Linked DNA regions of Homo sapiens. The protein of the gene in region 3 purifies or fractionates together with the protein of the main gene of each other region. This does not show direct contact. Each region holds a gene or a part of one and is shown on either strand. Other genes may lie near its edges. The genes, in order: STK11IP, ITIH3, THTPA, SLC38A10, SLC25A4, TTF2 and SLC25A13.

Region 1 (4,164 bases), on a different chromosome or scaffold from region 3:
TGCTGGCCTCGGCCTCCCAAAGTGCTGGGATTACAGGCGTGAGCCACCGCGCCAGGCCACGGCCAGCTCTTACATAGAAAGGTGGGGGGAAGTTTAGGTTTTATGGCTGGCTTTGGGGGAGAGGGCTTCTAGTTTCTGTGACTCATCTTGGGGAAGAGGAATTCTGGTTTCTATGGCTTGCCTTGGGGAAGAAAGAAGGCTGGGAGACAGGAGGGCAGGAAAAGGTCGGAGAGACTGTGCCTGAGGCCTTCCAGTCTCTTTTAGTTCAAAATAGTCAGCATACCAAAGCGCCGTATTTTGGGGTATTGTTTTTCTGAGCTCAACACTGCTGCTTCGGATGTATCTCCACTTACTTTATTTAACCTAAAAGGCTTTCAGCTCAGAGCACAAGTAGTATGCCATGAATGCGAAATTGTGTGGTTCAAATATTCAAAATATTTGAAATATTTGCCATTTCAAATATTTTGTCTTGAGAAAATAAAATCTTTCAAATCTGGCAACTTGGGATAAAGATGACTATGATCCTATCCCTCCTTTCAACTGGCTTAGGATTCATTTTGATTTTCCTCTGTAGAAATGGGGCGCTTCATGAAAGAAACTCTCTCTGAAAACCAGGAATTCTGTTAAAAGACCTTTTTGCTAATCTAGTTCAGTAGTTGACGTTAGCATTTGACGGGGAGCCTGGTGAAAGCTACCATGAGAATTCGGAAGCAAGAAACTGGCAGTCCTGGCGCTACTGGTTACTAATTGAACGACCTTCGCAAGTAACCTAGCCTCTGTGAACCTGTTCTCATTTTCAAACGCGGTTGAATAACTACTTTTCAACTAGGATGTTATGAAAGGTAATAGGGTAAAGACAAAGGACTAGGTTCGCGTGGAGCCCAGTACTGCTGAAGGAAAGATACACGAGTTTGGAGGGAGTCTAAGGAAAAGGAGGCAAAGGACCCCGGAGGTTATATCCTCGGTGGCCTCAGCTTTTACACGATCTAAGTCCATCCTACGGCGGATACGCTCTCCTTTCACTGGAAAATGACTGTTTGCGTTGAAAAAATTTTTATCTAACAAAGCTCCATTTCTCTAAACTTTGCTTCCCCGCCCAGTTTGCAAACGAGTCAGGGTTTCCTCACCGGCGCGGTAGGCTCGCCGAAAGCCAAGCGGGAGCCCCAGGCTGCGCAGGGCGGGGGAATAATGGGTGCCCAGCTCCGGGCCAGGAAGCCCAGGGAACCACTGCAGCCACCACCGCGGTCAGGAGACAGCCCCCGCACCGCCCCTTTTCGATTCGTTTGCATGATCTACGGCGCGGTTTCCGGCGGCAGAGACATGTTTTCCGGTCGTCCCTTGGCTCGATTTTCTTCCGGGGCGGGACTTCCTTTCCATCATTGATAGGCGCCGGGCAGCTGAGCTGGTAGGAGGACCAGACGGGGAGGTTCGGTATGTCTGACCAGGACTTATGTTCCTCGAAAGGGCGGCCAGGAGGATGCTCTTCCTCTCTTTTCTTTCTCGCCTTTTTCTCCGCATGACGCCTCGGTTTGCGCGGACGCCCTGGGCTTTTGGCACTACCGCCCACCTGAGGCTCTTCCGCTTCCTCTTTCCCCCCCCAGGCTCCGCCCCCCAGCGTCCCGTGGCCATGACGACCGCTCAGAGGGACTCCCTGTTGTGGAAGCTCGCGGGGTTGCTGCGGGAGTCCGGTGAGTGGACTTCCGGTTGGGCTGGGCCTCGGACCTCGGACGAGGTGGGGGTGGTGCTTTCTGGAGACACGCCCTGAGAGTCATGGAGTTACGACTGGTAGGGTCACCAGGTGTCAGAGTTCAATTTCTTTACTTTTCCCAGGTTTGTTCGCCCTTACAGTGTCCTTTGCCTGTGATAGCCTAAACTCTAGCCGTCCTTTGAGGCCAAAGGGCGGTATCCCTCCCTCCGTGCCTTCTCTGACACTGTCAGAAGGAAGTGATCATTACCTGACTAAAAGCCCCTCAGGACCAGGGACTGATCTCGGTCATAATCATTATTGTGTAGCAAGGTACTAAATACAGTAGATAGAAGCACGAGATTTGGAGTCGGACCCACTTGGGTTGGAATATCAACCCTCTTTCAAACTTGCCATACTGTTTCCTGAGGCTCAGTTTTCCTCACAGATTGGCATAGTGATTGTACTTAACATTTGTGGGGATTCGTTTTAATTCATGTATTTAGTACAATGCCTGCAAGTATAGTAACTGCTTACAGTTGGGAGCTATTGTTATTGTAATGATTTCCCTGATGCTTGGCACTGTGCCTGGGCATAATGGAGCCACAGTAGTTGTTGAATACTTGGTTGGCATTAGTTGTGGTAGAAAAAGCCTTGGCTTTGAGATCAGATAGGAGAAGTAACTTCCTACCAATTATATGATCTCCATCAAGATTTTTCACTTTTTTGAACCTCAATTTTCATATCTGTAAGATGGGGTTAATAGTGCTTCTCTTTGAGAGATTCTGAGAAGGTTTGAATGAGATACCAAAGTCATCTGGTACATACTACAGTTAATGTTAGCTGTCCTCCATCACTCCATGCTCCTATTGACGATATCTGTGGAAGCTCTCTTTATAGCAGTTTTCTTTTCTTTCTTTTCTTTTTTTTGAGACAGAGTCTTGCTGTGTCACCCAGGCTGGAGTGCAGTGGCGCAATCTCAGCTCACTGCAACCTCCACCTCCTGGGACGAAGTGATTCTCCTGCCTCAGCCTCCTGAGTAGCTGGGACTACAGGTGTGCACCACCATGACCGGCTAATTTTTGTATTTTTAGTAGAGACGGGGTTTCACCATGTTGGCCAGGTTGGTCTTGAACTCCTGACCTCAAGTGATTAACCTGCCTTGGCCTCCCAAAGTGCTAGGATTAAAGTCGTGAGCCACAGCACCTGGCCAGTAGCAGTTTCATTTCCTGGCTTGTATTGATAACTTTGCAAATGTCTTATATCCTTCTCTGGGAGGAGACAACTAGGAGGCCCTTTGAACGTGGGAAGAGTCCTTGAACCATGTCTGTATCTATCCTCAGTGTCTAGTACATACAGAATCCTTCATGTCAGGTTGTAGGACTTGTTAATTTATTCAGTGATGAATGGTGGGTGTGTGAATGTGTGACTACAAGGAGGTAGCAGGAGAAGAGCTTTGTGGCAGCAGAATAGTTTTGTATCTTGATTGCGTGGCTGCAGGAATTTATATAAACAGCATATAGCTATATATACATATTGTACCAACATCAGTGTCCTGAATTTTTTTTTTTTTTTGAGATGGAGTCTCGCTCTGTCACCCAGGCTGGAGTGCAGTGGTATGATCTCGGCTCACTGCAACCCCTGCCTCCCTCCCAGGTTGAAGTGATTCTTCTGCCTCAGCCTCCCGAGTAGCTGGGACTACAGGCATGCACCACCATGCCCTACTAATTTTTGTATTTTTAGTAGAGACGGGGTTTCACCATATTGGCCAGGCTGGTCTTTAACTCCGGACCTCGTGATCCACCCGCCTTGGCCTCCCAAAGTGCTGGGATTACAGGCGTGAGCCACCACGCCTGCCCTTTGTGTTTTTTTTTTTGTTTTTGTTTTTTTTTTTTTTTTTTTTTGAGATGGAGTCTACCTCTGTCACCCAGGCTGGAGTGCAATGGCTCAATTTCGGCTCACTGCAACCTCTGCCTCCTGGCTTCCAGCTGTTCTCTGGCCTCAGCCCCTCGAGTAGCTGGGATTACAGGCGCATGTCGCAATGCCCAGCTGAGAATATTTGTATTTTTAGTAGAGACGAGGTTAGAGTCGTAGAATAATTTTTTGTGTTTTTAGTGGAGACGGGGTTTCACCATGTTGGCCAGGTTGGTCCTGAACTCCTGACCTCAAGTGCCTTGCTCCCAAAGTGCTGGGATTACAGGCCTGAGCCACGGCAACCAGCTCAGTGTCCTGACTTTGATATTGTACTATAGCTATATAAAATGTAACCATTAGGGAAAACTGGGTAAAGGATACAGGGGACCTTTCTGTATTATTTCTGCAGCATTCTTTGACTCCATACTTATTATATTTTTTAAGCCAAAAAAGCATTCCTTCATGCCTAGCTTGTAGCTGCACTTTTTTAGGTGCAGTGATGAATACCAGAGTGATCAAAAGATGCCCTCAAGGATGAAAGTCTCATTAGAGAGAGCAGTTTTAAC
Region 2 (2,251 bases), on a different chromosome or scaffold from region 3:
TGAGTGGATACGTGGGTGAACAGATGGTTGAATGGTGAATGGGTGGGTGGGTGAGTGAATGGATGGATGGGTGGAGGGATGGGTGAATGGATGGTGGATAGATGGATGGATAGATGGAAGGGTGGCTGACATCCCCATTTAGATGTGGGCTGTATCTGCACTGGAGTATTATCTACTTCTAAAGGTCCTGATTGGAGCTCCTGAGCCGGGACCATTTACTTATCTTATGACTTTCCTGGATACTGAAATACATTCAACCCTTCCTGACTTCTCAGAGCCCCTTTCCTTCAGAGTCAGTTCTTTATTTTTTCCCCCAAGCTGTCATACATTTGAATCCCTAAAGTTCTAGTCCAACCAACTCTGTCTCTCAGCTGTGTCAGTGGAGAGGCCCAAGAAGTTGCCTTCCTGCTAGCCATCCCCTCTTTTGAGCTGCTGTGGGTCCCAGTTGCCTGTTCCCTGGAGCAGAGGCTCATGAAGGCATGTAGAGGCTGGCAGCTGTCTGGTCTCGACCTTGGACTTTATTTTCCCAGCCCCTCCCACAGGCCCCTCTCTGTGCCCATGTTCCAGATGCCATAAAATCCGGGCCATCCATCCCAACAGGAGCTGGTGTGTCTACTCAAAACAGGTTGGGGACAATGTAGTCAGTGTGGACACCATCAATCAGCCCTTCTCCGTTGTTGTGGACGAACCAGCAGACAACCTTCGTGCCGATGCTGGCATCCTTTCTGTAGTCTTTCTGGGAGCCCCTGGGGAAAGAAGAGAGATGCTGCAATACACGGGGTGGGTAAGATGGCTGCTAGGCTAGCGGACCTGAGATTGAAAAAGGGTGGGAAGTTGGCAATTCTAACAGCCCAGAATTCTTTGGTCAAGAATGAAGTTACATGATTACTCTTTCGAGGAAGCCAAGTTTGGGCTTTTTCTTGATTAGCAAGAGCCTGGGAGGGGCCAAGACCTCAAAGGGAAACAAGGGTACCCCACAGAAGACAAAAGCCCACCAGACTAATGTGCCTGGGCTGCAGGTGCTCTTTCCTCCTCTCGTTGCTGAGCAGGTGAGGGTGTGGGAGAAGTCTCCTCACCTGGTGACAATCAGCTGATGGTTCTTCACCACCAATGTGGCATCTGGCTTTGTGGGGTCAGAGCCTGGCCGGATGTCAGACACTTTAAAGTCAAAGGGTTGGAAGAATTGCCCTGGGAAGAAAAATATTCATGCTGTCAGCCCCTGGCCATTGCCACGGGTAACGTGGCCACTGGCCTTTCAGGGTTGATGCAAAGGCTGAATGGGGTGTTGTGAGCTGGGTACAGGGTGCCTAGGAAGGCCTTGTGTATGTCTTTCCCATGCTGCTCTCAGGCCTGAACAGCCTGCAGTCTGAACACTTCGTACCCAGCAGCCCATGCGTCTGTGCTGACATCCGGTGACTGTCCACCACGTAGAAGCCTAGAAAGTCACGGTGGACAGGATGTTTCTTCCACACCTGGTGTAGGACGACCACGAAGGTAACCCCATCTCCAAAGGAGACCACCATGTTCTTCCTGTTGATCATCATGGACAGCCTACGAGAGGAAGCCAGAAAGTGGCTGTGGGGCCCAGTGGCCGTGACACTGGGCATCTGACTCAAGGGCGTTTTGGTGGGGCCTCCCCTGTACATGGCACCCGAGGGCCCACAGACTCCAGAAACTATCTCAGGGGCGTTGGAAAGAGGATGCCTCATGCACACTGTCTCCCCTCCCGTGAGTGGATCCTTGAGTGTCTATAAGTGGGAAAGAGAGGGCTGGCCTATGAATCTGGAGGCCTGTGGTCCAGCCTCAGCTAAGCCACTGACTTCCTGAGTGACATTGGGCAGGCTCCACACCTTCTCTGAGCCTCAGTGGGAGGCTCTGGGGGATCTGAAGACAGGAGAGCTAAGAAGACAAGAGCAGCCACAGAAGAGGCAAATGGGGGCCATTATCACCTAATGCCTTCACCCAACCAGCTGAACTGTGCAGCTACCAATTCTGGCTCTGATAGGGCCCCAGGGTTTGGTTGGGGGCCACTATGGTCACCCTCCCCTGTGACAGGAGACTGGATTCTGGGGTCTCTGATCTTTCCTGTGACCCCCATGGATCTCCTGTCCTGGGATTTTTCTAAATCCCTCAAGAGCCTCCTTAGACTCTCACCCTGTAGTCCACCTTGGAGACCTTGTAGGGGAGCTTACCCATCCTGCGTGACTGTGACTGTGTCCAGCCAGCTGAAAGTGCTCGGCACGGCCCTGTT
Region 3 (4,267 bases):
ATCATAGGAAGGAGTCCAGGAGTTAAGAGCCACGGTTCCTCAGGGAGCTTCCTCACATGGAAGGTCAGACATATAGTTAGAGTCTCCAGATAACCATAGTCCTCAGAGGGAGTAAGAAGGAATCATCTCTATTAATATTTTGTCTCCCAAAGCATTCAAAGGGCCAACCCCCATGTTTTCCTGAATTTTATTTTTTTGGGGACAGATGGAGTCTCGTTCTGTCGCCCAGGCTGGAGTGCAGTGGCGCCATCTCAGCTCACTGCAACCTCTGCCTCCCAGGTTCAAGCAATTCTCATGCCTCAGCCTCTGGAGTAGCTGGGAACACAAGCACGCGCCACCATGCCCGGCTCATTTTTGCATTTTTAGTAGAGACGGCGGGCCGGGGGGGTTTCTCCATGTTGGCCAGGCTGGTCTCGAACTCCTGACCTCAGGTGATTCACCTGCCTCGGCTTCCCAAAGTGCTGGGATTGCAGGTGTGAGCAACCGCACCGGCCTTTCTGTATTCTAAATGAACATAAGTAGTTCTACACCTGACAAAAACTGCTTAGGGACCGCTGGAAACTCTGACAAACTCCTCAGTCTAGCACTCAAGGCTTTTCCCTCAACTGCATTTCTAGCCTCGTCTTCTCCTTACGTACCACCCAGGTGCTCTCCAGTTTCTGGGCCTTTGCTTAGGCTATTCCTGTCTCCATCTAGGTCTCCAACTGTTGAAATACCATCATATCTTTAGTTCCTGGCCAAAATACCACTTTATTCTCTGACAGAAAGTTTCTCACCCACTCTTACCCTCAACGTTCATGCCAGGAGGTATTAGATCCCCTCTAAAACTCCAGAGTAGCTAAACTGGACTTTATTACGCGCTGCCCCCGCCCCCTTCCCTCCCCCCACCCCAACCCCCCTCGCCACCATTGCCACTGGCCTGCGCTTAGCTGGCTGCTATAGCAGATATCTGTTGGACGGTGTGAATGGCTTGTATTCCAGGCCCATCTGCCTGCGTTGGGGGTGCGGCGGGGGGTGTTGGAGACGGGACTGGGGCTTGAGCTCCTTGCACCCGACTCTCCCCGCCGCCTTGTAGCCCCAGTTCAGCTTTAGGTAGAGTACCGCAGGCACCAAGTGCAGCTTTCCTGTCGCCATAGCGACGGGCGGGGCGAGATGGCAAAGTCTCCCTTTGGAACTACATCTCCCATCATGCATCCGCGCCTCGGGGTGCCTGGCTCAGCCTCAGGCATGAGACCTGTACCAGCCCCCGGGAGCCGTGCGGGGCCAACAATGAGGAGCAGAATGCAAGGGGCGGCCTCGCTCCCCTGGCCACCGCGGGGGTCGCGGCCTCCCATTACATAGCGCGTGTCTCGAGCCCTGGCCTGCTCTCGGCACCGCCACAACGGGCGTAATATGGCCGCTGGTGCCGGGACCTGCCGGGCGCGCGGAGGGTCGGGCCGAGGTCCGGGATCCGGAACTGCTCCCGGCATTCCTCGCGAGTGTATGGCGTGGGCTCCCTTCCCCCTCTGTGGGTCCCGCGAGGAGACTCTCGGGCTTTGAGGTGAGACCTGAAGTTCCGCTGGCCGGTAGTGTAGCAGGAAAGGGCAGGTCCTCCCGGGTCGTGAGCCAGTAGCCTCCTGGGGTGGCAAGGTGTAGAGAGGGGGGCGTTGAAAGGACACCCGCTACCCGGCCTGCTTTCTAGGGGTCTCTTTGGATTGAGGACATCAGCAGCAGTGGAAGGGATTTTACTGGAGACCTGTCACTGTCAGAGCCTTAAAATATCACCGACGGGGCCTTAATGTCACCGAGGTAGAGAGAAAAGGGCAGTAGCCCTAGAGACTATTGCGACACAGTGTGCCCCTCATAAGTTTTTCCAGGGAGGGGTTCTGTACTGAGTTGACGCCCCAGGAGCTGAGCACCAGGCTTTGCATCCTTGGGAACTCAGCAAACGTTTGTTCAGCCAATTGCAGGTAGCATGGCCCAGGGCTTGATTGAGGTGGAGCGAAAGTTCCTTCCAGGGCCTGGCACAGAGGAGCGGCTGCAGGAGTTGGGGGGCACCCTGGAGTACCGGGTCACCTTCCGAGACACCTACTATGACACCCCTGAGCTGAGCCTCATGCAGGCTGACCACTGGCTGCGACGACGAGAGGATAGTGGATGGGAGCTCAAATGTCCTGGAGCAGCAGGTGTCTTAGGACCCCACACGGAGTATAAGGAACTCACAGCGGAACCTACAATTGTGGCCCAACTCTGTAAGGTGCTGCGGGCTGACGGCCTGGGGGCTGGAGATGTGGCTGCTGTGCTGGGCCCACTGGGGCTGCAGGAAGTAGCTAGTTTTGTGACTAAGCGGAGTGCCTGGAAGCTGGTGCTCTTGGGAGCTGATGAAGAGGAGCCACAGCTCAGGGTGGACTTGGATACAGCCGACTTTGGCTACGCTGTGGGTGAGGTAGAGGCCCTGGTGCATGAGGAGGCTGAAGTACCAACTGCCCTAGAGAAGATCCACAGGCTCAGCAGCATGCTTGGTGAGGGAGACAGGCCCTTTTGTGCTTTTCCTGCTCCCCACTTTTCTCTTTTGGAGGCACCTGCTGGACCATGCAGTGGGGGAGGGCCTCCGGATTAAAAATTTTTTTTTTAATAGAGACAAGGTTTTGCCGTGTTGCCCAGGCTGGTCTGGAACTCCTGGACTCAAGCAATTTGCCTGCCTCGGCCTTCCAAAGTGCTGGGATTACAGGTGTGAGCCTCTGTGCCTGGCCTGGATTATTTTTGTAATGGGAATTGTTTTAGCAATTTTCTAAGTTTGCTTACAGTTCTGTGAAATCTCGTTTTCTCTTTAACAGTAGCTAATTTGGATCTAGTCCTTCCACGTGTCTAATTCCAGCCAACCTGCCTCATTTAGTTCTCATACCTATAGCCAGATCTCCTTCAGTTTCATTTCTCAGTTCCCTGCTTTGACTCTTCCTTCCCCCAATCTCTTTTTTTTCTTCTTCTTCAGTCACCACTCCTCCACAAGGAGTAAAAAGTAAGCCTTTTTACAAAAGCTGCCCTCTGGGAGGCTCAGACCCAGGATCTTCAGATCATGAGACTGATGCACTGCCCACTACACTGAGAGTCCAACCAGTCTTGTCCTTTTGTTTTACAATTACCTAGATCCTTTTAATTTGTCCTTTTGGCTTTTTGTAAAGGACAATAACATTATAGTTATGTGAGACAGTGGGGCATGATTTGGCAGATTTGTTCCTAAGCATAATTCCCTTGTAGACAGTTCATCCACACTAGGAATTGTGCATCCCATGGGGCCTTACAGCCCTGCAGTGCTGTTTGAGCCCCCTCAGCAAACATACACTGAGTTCCTTGCTATGTGCCCAGCATGCTGCCAGGCACTAACAACAAGACACTGGCAACAGGCAGTTCCATTCTCACCTCACCATGTAGAGGCGAGAATTCTATGTGAATCCCACCCCATGGCTATAGCTTCCCTCCTCTTCTTTCTATAGCTCTTGGTTTCTATGTGTACATCTCTGCATGTGCTTCATTACTAAGCTAATGAGCTTTGGCCTGGTCTAGGGCTTTAATCTTGATTGCGGAACAGGGTAATAACTGAAATGAGCTGACGCTGAGGCATCCTTCGTTTATCTTGGTGCCTGGGTGCCTCTTCGCCATTTCTCCTTGCTGGAGGAGAGAGGCTGAGGTGTGGCTTCTAGTCCCACTCTTGCCTGAAGTTGCTCTTTTAGGTCCCACTTCCACAGGCAGGCAGGGAGTGGACTAGTGTGTTACAGAAGCTGGGTGGGTGACATTCAGAACCCCAGTGTGGCTTTGGAAACATCCACGGAGTCCTGGCTAGGTGGGCAGGGAGCAGAGTCCAAGTGCTTGTGGCTCTGTCCATTTCTCTCCTCATTGTCCTTTTACCTGTAGGTGTGCCTGCACAGGAGACAGCACCAGCCAAGCTGATTGTGTATCTACAGCGTTTCCGGCCTCAAGACTATCAGCGCCTGCTAGAAGTGAACAGCTCCAGAGAGAGGCCACAGGAGACTGAAGATCCTGACCACTGCCTGGGCTAGGGGTGTCACTTCCTAGAAGGGGAAGGGAACTCTGGGTCTAACGGAGTCCACTCCTGGGCCCACTGTGCCTCTCCCCTCAGTGTCCCTTCTGACAGTGACTCCTCTCTCTCCAGCGCTGCCTGTTTCTTCCCCCTCCTCTAAGCTACTCTTCCTTGAGCCCTCCCTGGCTGCTTCCTCTCGCTCATCCGTCAGATGCAATCTGTGGGCCGCCCCTCTCCCCTGGCCGCTAA
Region 4 (3,500 bases), on a different chromosome or scaffold from region 3:
CCCCAACTCGGAATTCCATGGAGGAAGCTCCTCAGGCCTGGGCTGTTGCTGGAGTTCAGTGGCTCCTCTCCCAGTGGCTGTGTCCTTCCCCTGATGCTGTTGGTTGCAGTTTTGTTTCCCTTAGTTCTTTCTTGCTTTAATGCTGTTTCAGCCAGGAGAGAAGGCTGCGCTTTCTGCTTCATTTCAGTGTGGAATATTTTCTACGTTGTTTGTCTTCGAGGGCGCCATCCCTCACCTTCCCGTCTGCCCACAGGCTGTGTGGCCCGCGCTGTCTCCCTGCCCGCCACAGGCTCGGCACCTCTCGGCTCCACGTTCCATTCTGGGGGCATCCAGCCTGGGTGTTGAAATTCCAGCATCCGTGTTCTCAGGAGTTGGCCCTGTGGGTTTTGGTGAAAACTCTGGCCTTGTGATGAAGGCTCTGGACCTTCCAGCCAGTGTGCGGCTGGGATGTTAGGTCCTCCCTGCAGAAGGCCATCCTGCCCCCCGGGCTCACAGCTCCCGCGGCAGAGTGAGGAGGTGGCGGGAGAGGAAATGGTGTTTAGGGGTCCAGGGGGCCAAACAAAATAAAAACACCTGCACGGTCCACACGTGGGTCCTGGCCTCCCAGCCTCCACTTCCTCCCAGTCCCCTTCATGTTGCCACAGAGAGTCCTGCGTTCGTTTCGGCCCTCAGAACCGGAGGGGATGTATTCCTTCTCCTCCCTTCCTGATGAGAATGGTGCTGTCAGAGTCTTTTCTTGTTGTTATTTGAGGAAGTGAAGTTCACTGTTAAGTTTGATCCACAGTGAGATGGCCTAATGCAACTTGGGCTGAAAGATGCCTACCGGATGCCAGGAGGCACCGTGCCTGGGCGGGCCCCTTCCTGGGTCTGCAGAGCTGTGGCCTGCAGGGCGACCCTTTTCTCCTCACTGAGGTCTCTGTATAGGGTTTCTGTAGCAGAGGCCCCAACTCCAGTCCTTGGCTGTGTCCTGGAAGAAGACCGGTGACCCAGGGCTGGGGAGGCCCCCATTTCTGATAGCCAGCTGTCTATTCATTCAAAGTCCCTGAAAAGTCAAACCAGTTTGGCTACATGTGAAGGACTGGAAGAAAATTGCCGGGTGGGTGCTCTTCTGTGCTGCCTGGAACTCCTGCCTGAGCTTCCAACCTTTACCTGCATGGGGTGACCGCAGTCCACTTCTGCCTGCCAGAAACAAAAAAGATTCCAAAACACCAAGTGTGTCTCAGGTTATGCCTTTGACACCAAACACGGTGGTTCCACTGCGTGAGCTCCGGACAGAGGCCCCTGGGCCCAGCTGCTCCGCGTCAGCTGCAGTGTGCCCTGGCTCGTCTTAGAAGTGGGGAGACCCGCGCTGGGAGAGGCGTCCCTGGGGAGGGTAAGATGAGACTCTCCTGGAGCTGAGGCGAGGCCCTTGTGCAGAGTGGACAGCAGCTCCACACTGCAGTCTTCAGGAGGCGCCGGGCTGGGTCCCGTCCTCGCACACAGACTGACTTTCCCTGGGACGGCTGGGTGGTTTCCTCCGAATGGCATCTGCCCCCACCCAGGCATAGGTTTGCGGTGTAATGGTTCCTCGGGTTGGTTAGCCTGGGGAGGTGGCCGCTGATCGCTTTACCCTCCCCGCTGTCCTCCAGTGCCATGTGCCAGCCTGGAGAGGTGTCGTTTTTTGTTGGTGTTTGTATATTTCCCTGTCCTATTTGCTGTTGCTGGTTGCAGGTGGTTTTTGTCGTTTTCGTCACCTTCTCACTTGCTGCTTCCTTGCCCTGCGTGTCTTGCTTGGACATGGACTTTTCTAAATCCCCTCTTCAGAAGACACACAGATACATCAGTCATTCAGCCTCCTTCAGCTGTCGCGGCTTCTCATGAAGCTGTTCTGAGCCCCAGACCCTGCCCTGTTGAGAGTTGTGCCTGAACCCTGGCATGCGTGGTCTGGGCTAGAAACCGCCTCCCCCAGCAGCAGGGACTGTTTGGCCCCCACGCGGCCTCTGAGTTCTCGGTTGTGAGCAGCGGTGTCAGGAGTGCTGCCCGCGTCCTTTCGTTGGGTGGTCCAGGCTTCTGTGGCTCCTGTGCTGGCTCTGGGGGAGATCTGACTGCACCTGGGGTAGGGTACACCCTGCATGGAGGCCGCGCCCTCAGAGCTCGCCGCTCACAGATACCTCCAGCCTGGCAGGGGCTGGGCCCGCACTGGGAGTCCACACTCGGGGGAGGGCTGGGTCCCCGGGACCTTGCTGGGCGCTTCAGCCTCTTCCTCCCTTTCTCTGTGCCAGTCCACGCAGGATGTGAAGGAGTGGGGTCAGTCCAACTGGGGCTGGTGTTTGAACCTGGGGAGGAGAAGTTGCCGAGGGATTGACACTGGGAATGGCGGGTGAGGGTTTGGCCCAGGTGGGGAAAAGAAGGCGCGTGGGGCCGTGTCTCAGCGTGGTGGGCTCTCAGGACGTTGTCCTGGGAACCAGAAGAGAGTGCTGCCCTGATTTCCTAGACAGCCTCCCATTTTCCCTTGCCAGTGGCAGGCATATTCCGGAACCTTCTTGGGCAAGGTGCGCTCGTGTTTGGAATATGCTGTAGAGACTCAGCTTCCTTTTGGAGAATGAAAAGGCACATTATGGCCAGGAGCAACTTCATGTTTGGAGCGCCGTGTTTTGTTGCTTCCGGGCTGTGCCGTCACTGAGGGGTGTGGAGGGCGTTCCTTGGTGACAGCAGGGCCCTGGGCTGTGGGCTGCTGAGGGGGCTCCTGGAGTTCTTAGTGTTTGAAACTCTCCACAGCCTCAGGTCAGCTTCTGGGGCCTGGCTCGGGTTTCCGTGTTGTGGGATGAACTCAAGGGGTGCCAGGCTTCTTCAGCGAGCCCATAGGCAGGTCCAGGAAAGGCCAGGGTGAGCCCTGGAGGTGGGGTCTTTGCTGCTCCCGGGCTCTGGCGTTTGGCAACGCTGTGCTTCTTCCTAAGTAGTTTAAAGTAATAAGGAGTGTTTTTTGGACCCATTCATAGTTACTAGCCTGTGTGTTTCCTGCTTTCCAAAGCTCATCAGAGGCCTGTAGCCCGTGGGAGGAAGGAAACCAGGGGCAGGAAGCTGGGGCTGCCGACGGGGCTGGGCCATCCTGCCACATGCACCGCATCTCTGGGTGCGCCTTGGAGCCGGGACTTCCCTTTGCCCTTCTCCGGCTGGGCCGTGGGGGAAGCGCGGGGGTCACCAGATGACCGCTCGGGGCCTGGGAGGGACCCTGCTGAGTCAGCGCCGTTTCTCATCTGCTGCAGAGAATCCCGCGGTCAGGGCGGAGAGAATGGCGGCTCCTTCCGCATTCGGCCGCCCCGTCGGGAACGCATGCTCCTCATCGGCAAGGCTCCTCATTAGCTGTCCACGTGGACACCACAAGCCCAGGGCTCTCGTCCCCTCCCTTCCTGAAGCACCATGCTCGAAAGGAGTCTCCATTTGTTTCTATAAATCCCAACCAAAGGGTGAAAATGAAAGCCCTCCGTCAGAGTCCCTCTGGTGCAGGCTGTGGCGCTCGG
Region 5 (4,161 bases), on a different chromosome or scaffold from region 3:
CTCTGGCAGCTTTCCACTAGTTTCTAGCTTTCATTCTGCTTACCTGGATTTCGGAACTCTAGCCTGCCCCACTCTTAGATAAACGCATGCCCTCTGTGGCCCTGGAACCTTAGTGACTTCTGCTATACCAAAGTCTCCACGCCCAGGGTGACACGCAGCTGCAGCTCCGTAAACCTCTAACATGATGTCAGCAAATATTAAAAAAAAAAAGTTTATAAAACAATGAATAAACTTTGTTAAAGGTACAAATGAAAATTAGCAAACATGGGAAGATAATTGAGTGAAGAGTTTAAAGTTAAAAACGAATTGCAGTCATTCTAGGGGAAGGAACAGTTGTATTTGAAAACCTGTATGGTTACATGAACTGCCTAAAAAACAAGCTAAGGAAAATTAAAGCTCAGATTTATATATTTTAAGAAATTAATTGCAATTAATTTCCTGGGATTAAATAGCATTTCCTCAACCCCAGCTGTCATTAAAAAGAGGCAAATACAGCCAAGGACTGGATCTCCGGAAGGCTGACAGCACTGACCCTCAAGAAGGCACCGGCTGACAGACAGAACATTCTGCCCTAATATGTGCTGAAATTCCGCTGAGAGCAGAGTGGTACATTGAACCCTTTAGGGGCTTACAAAAGAAGTGTCCTGTGTTTTAGAGTCACAGAGTTTTGCAGAAACAAGTATGAATTCACCTAGTGGCCCCCTGCACCAGGTCTTTCCTGTGGGCACTGAGTGCCAGACACATCAATATGTAATAGCAGAATGAATGACTGAACGAACGATTGAATGAAAAGAAATGAGAGGCAGCAGGTTGTCAGATTCTATGAGGCAATCACAGCATCAGGTGACCTTAGTATCTATTTGAGAGGACTGCCATTTATTCTCGGGAGCGCACGGCTCTAAAGAGGCCCATATCCAGGCAGTGAGCTCTGGTGGGGGGCGCCTTTAGATGCAAGAAGGAGGAAACAGCTCGAAATCCCTGGGCCTGAGCGCGGCCCGTGCAGGCCGGAGGGTCAAGAACTCTCCACCGGCGGCAGCGGCCCGGTGTCTGCCCCGGCTTCGCCCCGGCCTAAGGCTGCCTGTGCTATAAATACGCGGCCCACATGCCGCGGTGACACGGTGTTCCCTGGGCTCGGCGGGACAGATAACATGAATGTGCCCTTTAAACGTCCCAAGTTGCAGGGACAGCCCCCGGCCCAGCCTCGCTCCCGGAAGCGCCTTCGCCCCCGATGCCCTCTGCAGCTGGGAGGAGGGGGCGCCCCGCACCTGCCCAGCCAATGCGCGGCGCGAGCGCCGGCCGCGACCCGCCTCCTCTCGCGAGAGCCCGGCGGGGATATAAGGGGGAGCTGCGGGCCAGGCGGCGGCCCCCTAGCGTCGCGCAGGGTCGGGGACTGCGCGGCGGTGCCAGGCCGGGCGTGGGCGAGAGCACGAACGGGCTGCCTGCGGGCTGAGAGCGTCGAGCTGTCACCATGGGTGATCACGCTTGGAGCTTCCTAAAGGACTTCCTGGCCGGGGGCGTCGCCGCTGCCGTCTCCAAGACCGCGGTCGCCCCCATCGAGAGGGTCAAACTGCTGCTGCAGGTGAGGACCGCGCGGTGCAAGAGGCGGGCGCGGGCGCGGCGGGCCGGGCGGGGCGCGCGATGCGGCGCGAGCTGCAGGGCGCGGGGCGCCGCGGAAAATCTGCGCCAGGCCACAGGCCCGGGCGCCCGCCCGCCCGCCCGCCCGCCCGCGGGGGAAGAAGGTGCCCTCTGCGTAGAGACAGGTCCAGCGTCAGTCGCAGATTCCTGGTGTCGGGTGGCGCCCGGCGTTCGGGTGTCTATATATGGAAACCCACCCGGAGCCGGTTTACGTGTGCCAGATCCTGCGCCCGTGACAGCACGGGCGTGCACTCAGGCCCGGAGGCACCTAGTGATTGCCAGTATTTTTGGCACCGTCTTATGCGCACGCACCTTTACAATAAAAACATCAAAATAATCATCACCCAAGAATTCCCTTATCGTATCTCATGCACAATGCTGTATGTAGGCTGACGCCTTCATCTTTATGTAACCTCTGTGAGAGAGTTATTCTTCTCCATTTTACAGATGAAGCTGAGGTTTTGAAATATTAAGAAACAATTTTCGGAATAAACTCAGATCATCCTGTCTCCAAATCTTTTCCTCCCCTACCTGGTCGCTGAATGGTTTATCATCCTCTCGTGTTTTCCTCCACCTGCCCAAAAGGTCAGGGCCCCTCAATGAGGAAGAGCCCAATTTGGGAGTCAGAATTACTAACAACAAAACCCCCACAAATTGCTCACAACGGCAGCAAACCCTTAATAATTGATTACTTGGATTATCTGCTTGAAAACTTTGGAGGCCTAATGTTTAGTGGATTTATTCTCCTTCCTCTATTAGAGCATCTAGTAGAGATCCTCATCTCCAGGGTGATCAGAGTGACACTGAGAAATTGTCATTTTTTGGCCATCATGTCTATTAAATCCAAAGCCCTTTGAAGCAGGGAGTGTTACTCATTTCTGTCCCCCAGTAAGCCCCTCATACAGTTCTCAAACCTAGGGAAAGTGAAATAAATAAATGGCTATAGCTTTATATAATTCAATCACCTTTTCAGTTTATTTGGGGCAATACCTTTTCCCTCAAATACCCTAATAATTGAAGCAACATTGGATTATTTTGGCTTGTTATCCAGTAACTAACATGGATAACAGTATCCATTTACACGTCCTCAGTATCCATTTGATTTCCTCATCCTTTTTTTCTTCAAAAAAAAAATCTAGGAAGTGCAAACCTTTTTTTTTCTCCTGTCCTCTTCCCTTCTCTCTACCCTGCCTGTCCTCTGTCACCCACCCTCCCCTCCACCAGGTCCAGCATGCCAGCAAACAGATCAGTGCTGAGAAGCAGTACAAAGGGATCATTGATTGTGTGGTGAGAATCCCTAAGGAGCAGGGCTTCCTCTCCTTCTGGAGGGGTAACCTGGCCAACGTGATCCGTTACTTCCCCACCCAAGCTCTCAACTTCGCCTTCAAGGACAAGTACAAGCAGCTCTTCTTAGGGGGTGTGGATCGGCATAAGCAGTTCTGGCGCTACTTTGCTGGTAACCTGGCGTCCGGTGGGGCCGCTGGGGCCACCTCCCTTTGCTTTGTCTACCCGCTGGACTTTGCTAGGACCAGGTTGGCTGCTGATGTGGGCAAGGGCGCCGCCCAGCGTGAGTTCCATGGTCTGGGCGACTGTATCATCAAGATCTTCAAGTCTGATGGCCTGAGGGGGCTCTACCAGGGTTTCAACGTCTCTGTCCAAGGCATCATTATCTATAGAGCTGCCTACTTCGGAGTCTATGATACTGCCAAGGGTGAGAGAGGGGCATCGGGGAGAAGGAGGGTGGTGTGGAAAGAGGATCCTATGGGATCTATAACTCACAAAGGACCTGATATATATTGATCTTGTTTTTTCTAGTCTCTGGGATAATTGAGGCTTCTGAATGAGGAGGTGATGTGCATAAGTTAATAGCTGAAGCGTTCCTTGTGTCCTCTACTGAAATAAACTCTGGCCTTTAGTTATTCAGAGAGGAGGAGGGGGGAGCCTGTCTCCCTCTAGACACAGCCATAGCAGTTACTGAGTTTAACTTGAAGCCACTTCCAATGCCCTGTATACAAGCTGAGCACTGCCCCTCCGGGGTCCGGAGAGGGCAGCAGCCACCTTTGCTGTCTGCCTGGTCATATGTGAAGCACCTGCACAGGGGCAGGTTCCCCGCAAGGTCAGAGCATGGAGCTGGAGGTGCAGTGGCCTCTCTCCCTCCACCTGCTTTCTGCTGAGAACAGGCACTTCATAGCCGTTCGGCTTCTGGGCTCTGTCCACAGGGATGCTGCCTGACCCCAAGAACGTGCACATTTTTGTGAGCTGGATGATTGCCCAGAGTGTGACGGCAGTCGCAGGGCTGGTGTCCTACCCCTTTGACACTGTTCGTCGTAGAATGATGATGCAGTCCGGCCGGAAAGGGGGTAAGCTTGTGCTCTACTCATCTAAACTTGTTTGGTTTTGCCCGAGGAGAACATTTTACAGGGCTCCTTTCAGTCTTCCTTACTGGAAATTAATTTTCAAAATTATTTGATAAGGACTTAGGGAAGAAAGATGGTATTAATTCCCCCTAACGTTCTCAACTATCCT
Region 6 (3,500 bases), on a different chromosome or scaffold from region 3:
TAGGTTTGTGTAAGTTCACACAGTGACGTTCACACAAAAATGAAATCTCCTAATGACGCATTTCTCAGAATATGCCCCCATTGTTAAATGACTCATGACTGTAGTGTCTACTTTAAAACTCATGCCATGTAGACTTTCAGGAGAAGGGCAAGATTTGCAGAACTAAGGAAAGAAACACACTGAACATCTGCTATGTGCTAGGCACAGTGCTAAAAATGCTTTCCCTTACATTTTTAATTAAAATCAATCTGGATGAGCTTTTCTGATTTTAGGATAATAAGTTTGTTTGTTACGTTTTATTATATTGTAAATCAACAAAGAATGCAGTGGAAATATATTTTCGCAGAGAAAGCAAATATCAATTCCACTATAAGAAAAGCATTAATTTCTGCAGTATGTTTATTAATTGTTTTCCAGGACAGAGGTTATAGGCAATAACGATGAAGGGACCAGCTAGAAGAAGCCAGACCTCTTCAATCCTGACTTCTTCACCAAAACACAAATCCTCCCATTTTCCTAAAGGTAATGTCCAACTCAACATCACACTGCCAAGTGCATTCACTTTAGCAAGGCTACAGTTCTCTCAGGCTCCAGAACTATTCTCCCTTGGTTCAAATCCCAGCCCTACCACCTAATTAGTTCTGAAACATCAGACACCTTAATTGACTGCCCCCTGTGGCAGTTTCCTGTTCTGTAAAATGGCAAAATGATATAGTCCATACCTCATACGGTCATGATGAAGACAAAATACAATCAGAGCAAAGCCTGATACATACCAAGGTCTTAAAAGACAACAGCAATGCCAAGCTCACACTGGCTGATCACTCTGCTTATTCCTACATCCACACTTCTGCTGAAGCTGTTCTGCCTCAACACTTCCTTGTCCTTTCCTCCATCAAAATTGTCAAGGTCATTCAAGGACAACTTCAAGTCTCAACTCCTCTACTTTCTCTGTAACCTTCCTAGCCCTGAACTGTATGTCTTAGAGTCACAGAACCATCTCGCATCTGAACGTCTTCAATTTAGCGCTCTAATGTGCAGAGGAGACTGCACCCCAATCTCAGTACATCTAACTCTTATTCCAGCTGTGTCAAAGGCTCCTTAGGGATTATGAGTTCACATCTTTACATGGTCCAGCTCTGGAAAAACATAAAGCCGAATGTCTACCTCATTCTTTTACACGAACTTTCAAGATGGAAAAAAATGTAAAAGTAAAAAACAAAATTGTAAATGTTCTAGGAAAAAAAACAGATATGAATATTCTTGTAGTCCTAAAGTGAAGAAGGCTTTTCTAAGCCTGGGATAAAACTCTGAAGCTGAGAAATAAAGAATTTAGTAATTTTTAAAAGTTTACACTACCATATGATGAAAATACCATAAGCAAAATTGTAAGACAAAAAGCAAACTGGGAAAACGTAACTACCACACATATCACAAAGGGTTACTATACTTTATACAAAGGGATTGCTCGCACTGCACAGTGCAGTGCATGGTACTGTACACCGCCTCACAAGTATGGCTTTATTCAGTGGTCCTTCACAGCTGGTGGGGCCTGAGGTTCTGGCTGGGTCTGGCGCATGCCTGGTTGCCTCTCTATCACCATCCTGCTCACTATACTAGGGCTAGATAATCTGCAGGTCAATTTCACCCAATAGCCAACAACACGAGGAGTTTTCTAGACATGTGAAGTTTCAAGGGTTATTAAAAGTAAAATATTTTGAACATCTACCACAACCAATTAATTTTTTTTTGGAGGTGAATATTTTTCTTTTTTTTTTTTTTATTACACTTTAAGTTCTAGGGTACATGTGCACAATGTGCAGGTTTGTTACACATGTATGCATGTGCCATGTTGGTGTGTTGCGCCCATTAACTCGTCATTTACATTAAGTATATCTCCTAATGCTATCCCTCCCCTCTCCCCCAACCCCACAACAGGCCCCAGTATGTGATGTTCCACGCCCTATGTCCAAGTGTTCTCATGGTTAAGCTCCCACCTATGAGTAAGAACATGCGGTGTTTGGTTTTCTGTCCTTGTGATAGTTTGCTCAGAAGGATACCACAACCAATTATTTAAAGAACTAAAACTTGTTATACCCACGTCTAAGCAAAGAAATATTTCCATTTATTTTGACCCTGTATCCTTGAGTGAAAGTTCTGTGAGAAACAGAGAGAAAGGAAAATATGAACTCAGGAGCTCAGTGACAATGCCCAAAATTTGTATACCAGGGTGTACCACATCGTTCATGTCAAGGCAAGATTTCTTCCCCCTGGTTCTACTGAGATTATCAGTTTTCTTTACTGCCTGTACACAGAGGGCCATGGCCGAATGGCTAGTCAAATGCTGGTCAGTGGTGCCATCTGGTGTTTCAGTTAGAGATCTGCACACAAATGCAGCTACACTGCAAGAGATGAAAAATGGGCATCTTCGCCTCAGTTTACACCTCCCTTCTATTACTCTGTTGCACCTGTCTCCTGACTACATTCAGCCAAACATAATAGTATTAATTAGAGGATGTAAAATATTTAAGTTATTAAAAAGAAAACCCAGAGTATGTGAGGGAAAGGCTGTACTCTCATAGGTCACTCTCCAGGGGTTCTGGCTGAACACCCTTAATGTTCACTAAGGAAGCCATCATCCATATATAGACTTATCTATTTCTGTTTAAATTCCCAGTCTATGCTACCTATCAGAGTACCTGGTTTTCTGTTGTTATTGTTTTTTAATGTGTTGTGTGTTAAGAACTGCCTTTTACTTTTATTTGTCCTAAGACAACTTTTTTTTTTTTTTTTTTTTTTTTGAGACTGAGTCTTGCTCTGTCATCCAGGTTGGAGTGTAATGATGTGATCTTGGCTCACTGCAACCTCCGCTTCCCCGGCTCAAAGTGATTCTCCTGCCTACTGAGTAGCTGGGATTACAGGCACACGCCACCATGCCCGGCTATTTTTTGTATTTTTAGTAGAGAGAGTTTCACCATGATGGCCAGGCTGGTCTTGAACTCCTGGCCTCAAGTGATCCGCCGGCCTTGGCCTCCCAAAATGCTGAGATTACAGGTGTGAACCACCATGCCTGGCCCTAAGACAAGCTTTTTAAAGCTCCAGTAAGTACTTCCTAGTAATAGTGCTCTGAATTTAGGCTAAGAGAAATACATGTAACATACTTTTTTGTTCTATTTTAAAATAATAAACCCTTCTCAGTCTTATCCATCTAGTACAAAGAACGTTAACAGCAAGTTCTCAAAATTCTGACCTCAGTCAGGCCTTTCTTCAGAGCTGCACACTCATTTTTCTAGCTGGTTTCACATGAAAATAAGACACAATTTGGCCAGGTGAGGTGGCTCATGCCTGTAATCCCAGTACTCTGGGAGGCTGAGGCAGGCAGACCACTTGAGGCTAGGAGTTTGAGACCAGCCTGGCCAACATGGCAAAAGCCCATGTCTACTAAAAATACAAAAATTAGCTGGGCGTCGTGACACACACCTGTAATCCCAGCTACTCGG
Region 7 (3,500 bases), on a different chromosome or scaffold from region 3:
CTAACTTATTCCAAGAATGTCCCTTATTGAACTGCCTTTGGGCATCACCTTTATCGGTTGATTCTGTTGGCAGCCTGAGTTAAAGGCTGTGCTCCTTGCTTTTTCCCTGGAGCATAGCTATTCCATGTTGCCAGCTGAACACAGAGCCATAGGGGTAGGGTTGGCATTCCCTCTTAAAAGTTGAGGAGCCTGGATAGGAGAGGACTTCACCTCAATGGACTGTTAGGAAATTGGGCTGAGACTCTGGGGACTCAGCAACTGTGAGAATTCCAACACTCACTACACTCACTGTGACAAATTGTTTGAATATTTAAGCAGATTTGGTATTTTCTGGATAGATGTAGCCACAACTAGCAATTAGTTTTCTGATCTGTTTCTTTCTTTGGTCTTTATACTTATTTAAATACAGCTAATTATTCATGACCTTCCTTTAAATAGTTTTAATGGGGAGATGGAGAATCTAGTCTTTGGCTGCTTTTTATTTTGAATTTTGCTATGAAGATTACTAGTTAATGGTTCAAGAAGTGTTTGTTTTCTTTCGTGAATGAACATTAATCTAAAACTCTTAGTATTCTGAGATTATCTCAAAAAGTGTCCATTCTCTTGCTGCCTACGTTTGTAGGAATAATCCTTGTGGGTTCCCTTGTTAGATCTGCCTGTACTGTTTGCGTTGTTTGAATATTTCTTTTAAACATTTCCCAAAACTGCCATAAAAAAACAGTTTTAAAAGGTGGTAATTGAGAGGTCACCCTTTTCTTCGTCTCTGCCCTTTTCTTGGTTAAAGGAGAGCTTTCTTCTTCGTCATTGGTTAAATTTATGCGTTACGAATGATGTAATTAACCTATATGAACCTACTAAAAGTTAGAATATGCTCCCTTGAGTTCAGACCTGTGAGATGTTCTGGGGTAAAACTGAACACAGACCAATATTAGCCTAGAACCAAAAGAAGGAAATTTGGGGGCACATTAAAGCATTAATAATAAAGACAATTTGGTCTGTAGGACTAGTACACTTTGTATTGACTTTTCATTCTTGGATGAGTTGTTGCTGTGATCATTGATTCATTTATGTGTATTGTGTTCTTTCCAGTGTTGCAAATGGGACAAAATTGAGAATACTAAAATGAATTGTTAGCTGGGCATGGTGGCACGCATCTGTGGTCCCGGCTACTTGGGAGGCTAAGGCAGGAGGATCACTTGAGCCCAGAAGGCAGAGGTTGCAGTGAGCTGAGATAGCACCACTGTACTCCAGCTTGGGTTACAGAACGAGATCCTGTCTCAAAAAAAAATAAAATAAAGTAAAATAAAATAATAAAATAAAATAAAATAGAATAAAATAAATAAAATGAATTGGACTCCATTTTGATGTTCAAGAAAACCAAAACCATTCCAGGGGGCTAAGTTCTCTGATGGAAATGCTCCCACTACAAGGTTTGTGGGAGCAGTAGGAGAAGAGCCCATTTCTGAGGAGATGAGGGAAGTCTTCTGAAAATTGCTAGTATTTCAGAAGGAATGGATGGGGAAGAGTAAAGATCCAATCCAGTGGTTGGAAACAAATGAAGGGCTGGGAGGTGAGAGCACAGGCTACATTTAGTTAACAGCAGGTAATAAAAACTAAAAGCAGCTGACACTTACTGAGCGCTTACTAGATACCAAATTCAGTTCCAAATGTGTTTCATTGTTGATTCATTTAAAATTCAGTTCCAACTGTGTTTCGTTGTTGATTCATTTAATGCCTCAGCCTTTTGAGTTAGTTACTATCATCCTTTTTTTATAGATGAAGGCTCTGAGATACCAAGAGGTGATGTTAGTGGCCTAAGATCTGATAAGTATGGCTGGGTACGGTGGCTCACACCTATAATCCCAGCACCTTGGGAGGCCGAGGCAGGTGAATCACCTCAGGTCAGGAATTTGAGACCAGCCTGGCCAGTCTGGCCCATCTCTACTAAAAATAGGAAACAATTAGCCGGGCATAGTGGTGCATTCTTGTAATCTCAGCTGCTCGGGAGGCTGAGGTAGGGGAATTTGCTTCAACCTGGGAGGCGGAGGTTGCAGTGAGCTGACGTCGTGCCATTGCACTCCAGCCTGGGTGACAGAGCAAGACTCTGTCTCAAAAAAATAAAATAAAATAAAAAAGATCGGATAATTAGGAAATTATCGAGCTGGGGTTCAAATCCTGCCAGTCTGGCTCCAGCAGCTGTGGCCTCACTCTGTCCACCATGTGTGCCTGGTAGTTTAGTGTGGTGGAGAATAAAGTATATGGGAGAGGTGTGGGAGATGACTTAGGAGAGGGGTAGGTGTCTCAGTGTAAACCAGACTTTTATTTGAGAACTGCCTTACCTAGTGCTTTTTGCATGCCAGGTACTTTTCCAAGAGCCTTACAAATAGTAACTCAATTAATTTTCTTAATTCTAAGAAGTAGGTGCTTTCTGTTTTTGACTTCAACTTACAGGTGAGAAAACTGAGTTAGGGGAGGTTAAGTAATTTCTCACGCTTGTGCAACAGGTAAGTGCTACAGTCTTGATTTGAACCTTGCCAATGTGTCTTCAGAGTCTCTGCTCTTAACCTCTGCGCTGCTCTCCCAGGTCTTACCAAGAGTTCCATTTGCGAAGGTGTATGTGTGAGAGTTCACATGCCATCGGGTATGGATGTGTATATTTCCTGATCATCCCAGTCCAGTAGTTCTTATCTTAGAACACCTTTGTCACTCTGTATATGCTTCATTTCAGTGTTTATTAAGTGTATTTCTCATCTCTCCAACCAGATCGCAAATCCCTGCAGGACAGGAATTGTCATATACCTTTTATTTAATTGCTTTATTGAGATATAATTCAAGTACTATACAATTTACCCATTTAAAGCATATGATTTATTGGTTTTCAATATATGCACAGAGTTGTGTAACTGTCACCACTGTCATATACCTTTAATCCAGTTTCCATTAGGATTTGGACTATAATATATATATATATATTTGGGACAGGGTCTCACTCTCTCACCCAGGTGGAAGTGCAGTGGTGTGATTATTGCTCACTCTAGCCTAGACCTCGTGGATACAAGAGATCCTCCCACCGCAGCCTCCTGAATAGCTAGGACCTCAGGCACACACCACCACACCCAGCTAATTAAAATTTTTTTTTTTTTTGTAGAGACGGGGGTCTTGCTATGTCGCCCAGGCTTTGGGCTGTATATTTAACCTCCATGTCTTCCACATTGTTCACCCATCATAAAACCCTCTTCAGAGGTTTGTCATTGAGGATAAAATATATTGAGGTTATTAAAGATATTCTTCAAATGGCAGGGTTTTTTCTCCCCTATGTAAAAACTCTACTAAGTATTTGGTGATATCATAATAAAACAAATCAGTTTTTGTGCTAGGAATGGAGGAAAGAAGGTTTGAGTTGTTTTTATGCTACCATGATGATGATTATTAAAACAAATATCTATGGCTCCACTGTTTGGGTTTTAGGGGTTCTTATCTTGTTGGAGCTGGATGGCCTT

Evidence for each region.
Region 1: the proteins of THTPA (region 3) and STK11IP purify together in Homo sapiens (affinity purification with mass spectrometry; one large-scale study listed by BioGRID and IntAct). This does not show direct contact.
Region 2: the proteins of THTPA (region 3) and ITIH3 purify together in Homo sapiens (affinity purification with mass spectrometry; 2 studies listed by BioGRID and IntAct, with this or other methods). This does not show direct contact.
Region 4: the proteins of THTPA (region 3) and SLC38A10 purify together in Homo sapiens (affinity purification with mass spectrometry; one large-scale study listed by BioGRID and IntAct). This does not show direct contact.
Region 5: the proteins of THTPA (region 3) and SLC25A4 purify together in Homo sapiens (affinity purification with mass spectrometry; one large-scale study listed by BioGRID and IntAct). This does not show direct contact.
Region 6: the proteins of THTPA (region 3) and TTF2 purify together in Homo sapiens (affinity purification with mass spectrometry; one large-scale study listed by BioGRID and IntAct). This does not show direct contact.
Region 7: the proteins of THTPA (region 3) and SLC25A13 purify together in Homo sapiens (co-immunoprecipitation; one large-scale study listed by IntAct). This does not show direct contact.

What each region holds. Positions count from the first base shown.
Region 1 is NC_000002.12:219,596,493-219,600,656, forward strand, and holds the start of STK11IP (serine/threonine-protein kinase 11-interacting protein), read left to right. Parts: upstream 1-1,364; 5' UTR 1,365-1,431; intron 1,432-1,601; 5' UTR 1,602-1,627; coding exon 1,628-1,688; intron 1,689-4,164. UniProt on the Homo sapiens protein: May regulate STK11/LKB1 function by controlling its subcellular localization.
Region 2 is NC_000003.12:52,807,047-52,809,297, reverse strand, and holds the end of ITIH3 (inter-alpha-trypsin inhibitor heavy chain H3 isoform 4 preproprotein), read right to left. Parts: coding exon 2,193-2,251; intron 1,713-2,192; exon of another isoform or gene 1,576-1,712; coding exon of another isoform or gene 1,552-1,575; coding exon 1,382-1,551; exon of another isoform or gene 1,349-1,381; intron 1,189-1,348; coding exon 1,077-1,188; intron 781-1,076; exon of another isoform or gene 747-780; coding exon 617-746; 3' UTR 501-616; downstream 1-500. UniProt on the Homo sapiens protein: May act as a carrier of hyaluronan in serum or as a binding protein between hyaluronan and other matrix protein, including those on cell surfaces in tissues to regulate the localization, synthesis and degradation of hyaluronan which are essential to cells undergoing biological processes.
Region 3 is NC_000014.9:23,554,804-23,559,070, forward strand, and holds the start of THTPA (thiamine-triphosphatase), read left to right. Parts: upstream 1-1,467; 5' UTR 1,468-1,954; coding exon 1,955-2,501; intron 2,502-3,891; coding exon 3,892-4,037; 3' UTR 4,038-4,267. UniProt on the Homo sapiens protein: Hydrolase highly specific for thiamine triphosphate (ThTP).
Region 4 is NC_000017.11:81,285,308-81,288,807, reverse strand, and holds part of SLC38A10 (solute carrier family 38 member 10), read left to right. Parts: intron 1-1,458; exon of another isoform or gene 1,459-1,463; intron 1,464-3,500. UniProt on the Homo sapiens protein: Facilitates bidirectional transport of amino acids. May act as a glutamate sensor that regulates glutamate-glutamine cycle and mTOR signaling in the brain. The transport mechanism remains to be elucidated.
Region 5 is NC_000004.12:185,141,905-185,146,065, forward strand, and holds the start of SLC25A4 (ADP/ATP translocase 1), read left to right. Parts: upstream 1-1,361; 5' UTR 1,362-1,468; coding exon 1,469-1,579; intron 1,580-2,859; coding exon 2,860-3,346; intron 3,347-3,854; coding exon 3,855-3,995; intron 3,996-4,161. UniProt on the Homo sapiens protein: ADP:ATP antiporter that mediates import of ADP into the mitochondrial matrix for ATP synthesis, and export of ATP out to fuel the cell.
Region 6 is NC_000001.11:117,066,826-117,070,325, reverse strand, and holds part of TTF2 (transcription termination factor 2), read right to left. Parts: intron 1-3,500. UniProt on the Homo sapiens protein: DsDNA-dependent ATPase which acts as a transcription termination factor by coupling ATP hydrolysis with removal of RNA polymerase II from the DNA template. May contribute to mitotic transcription repression. May also be involved in pre-mRNA splicing.
Region 7 is NC_000007.14:96,315,599-96,319,098, reverse strand, and holds part of SLC25A13 (electrogenic aspartate/glutamate antiporter SLC25A13, mitochondrial), read left to right. Parts: intron 1-3,500. UniProt on the Homo sapiens protein: Mitochondrial electrogenic aspartate/glutamate antiporter that favors efflux of aspartate and entry of glutamate and proton within the mitochondria as part of the malate-aspartate shuttle.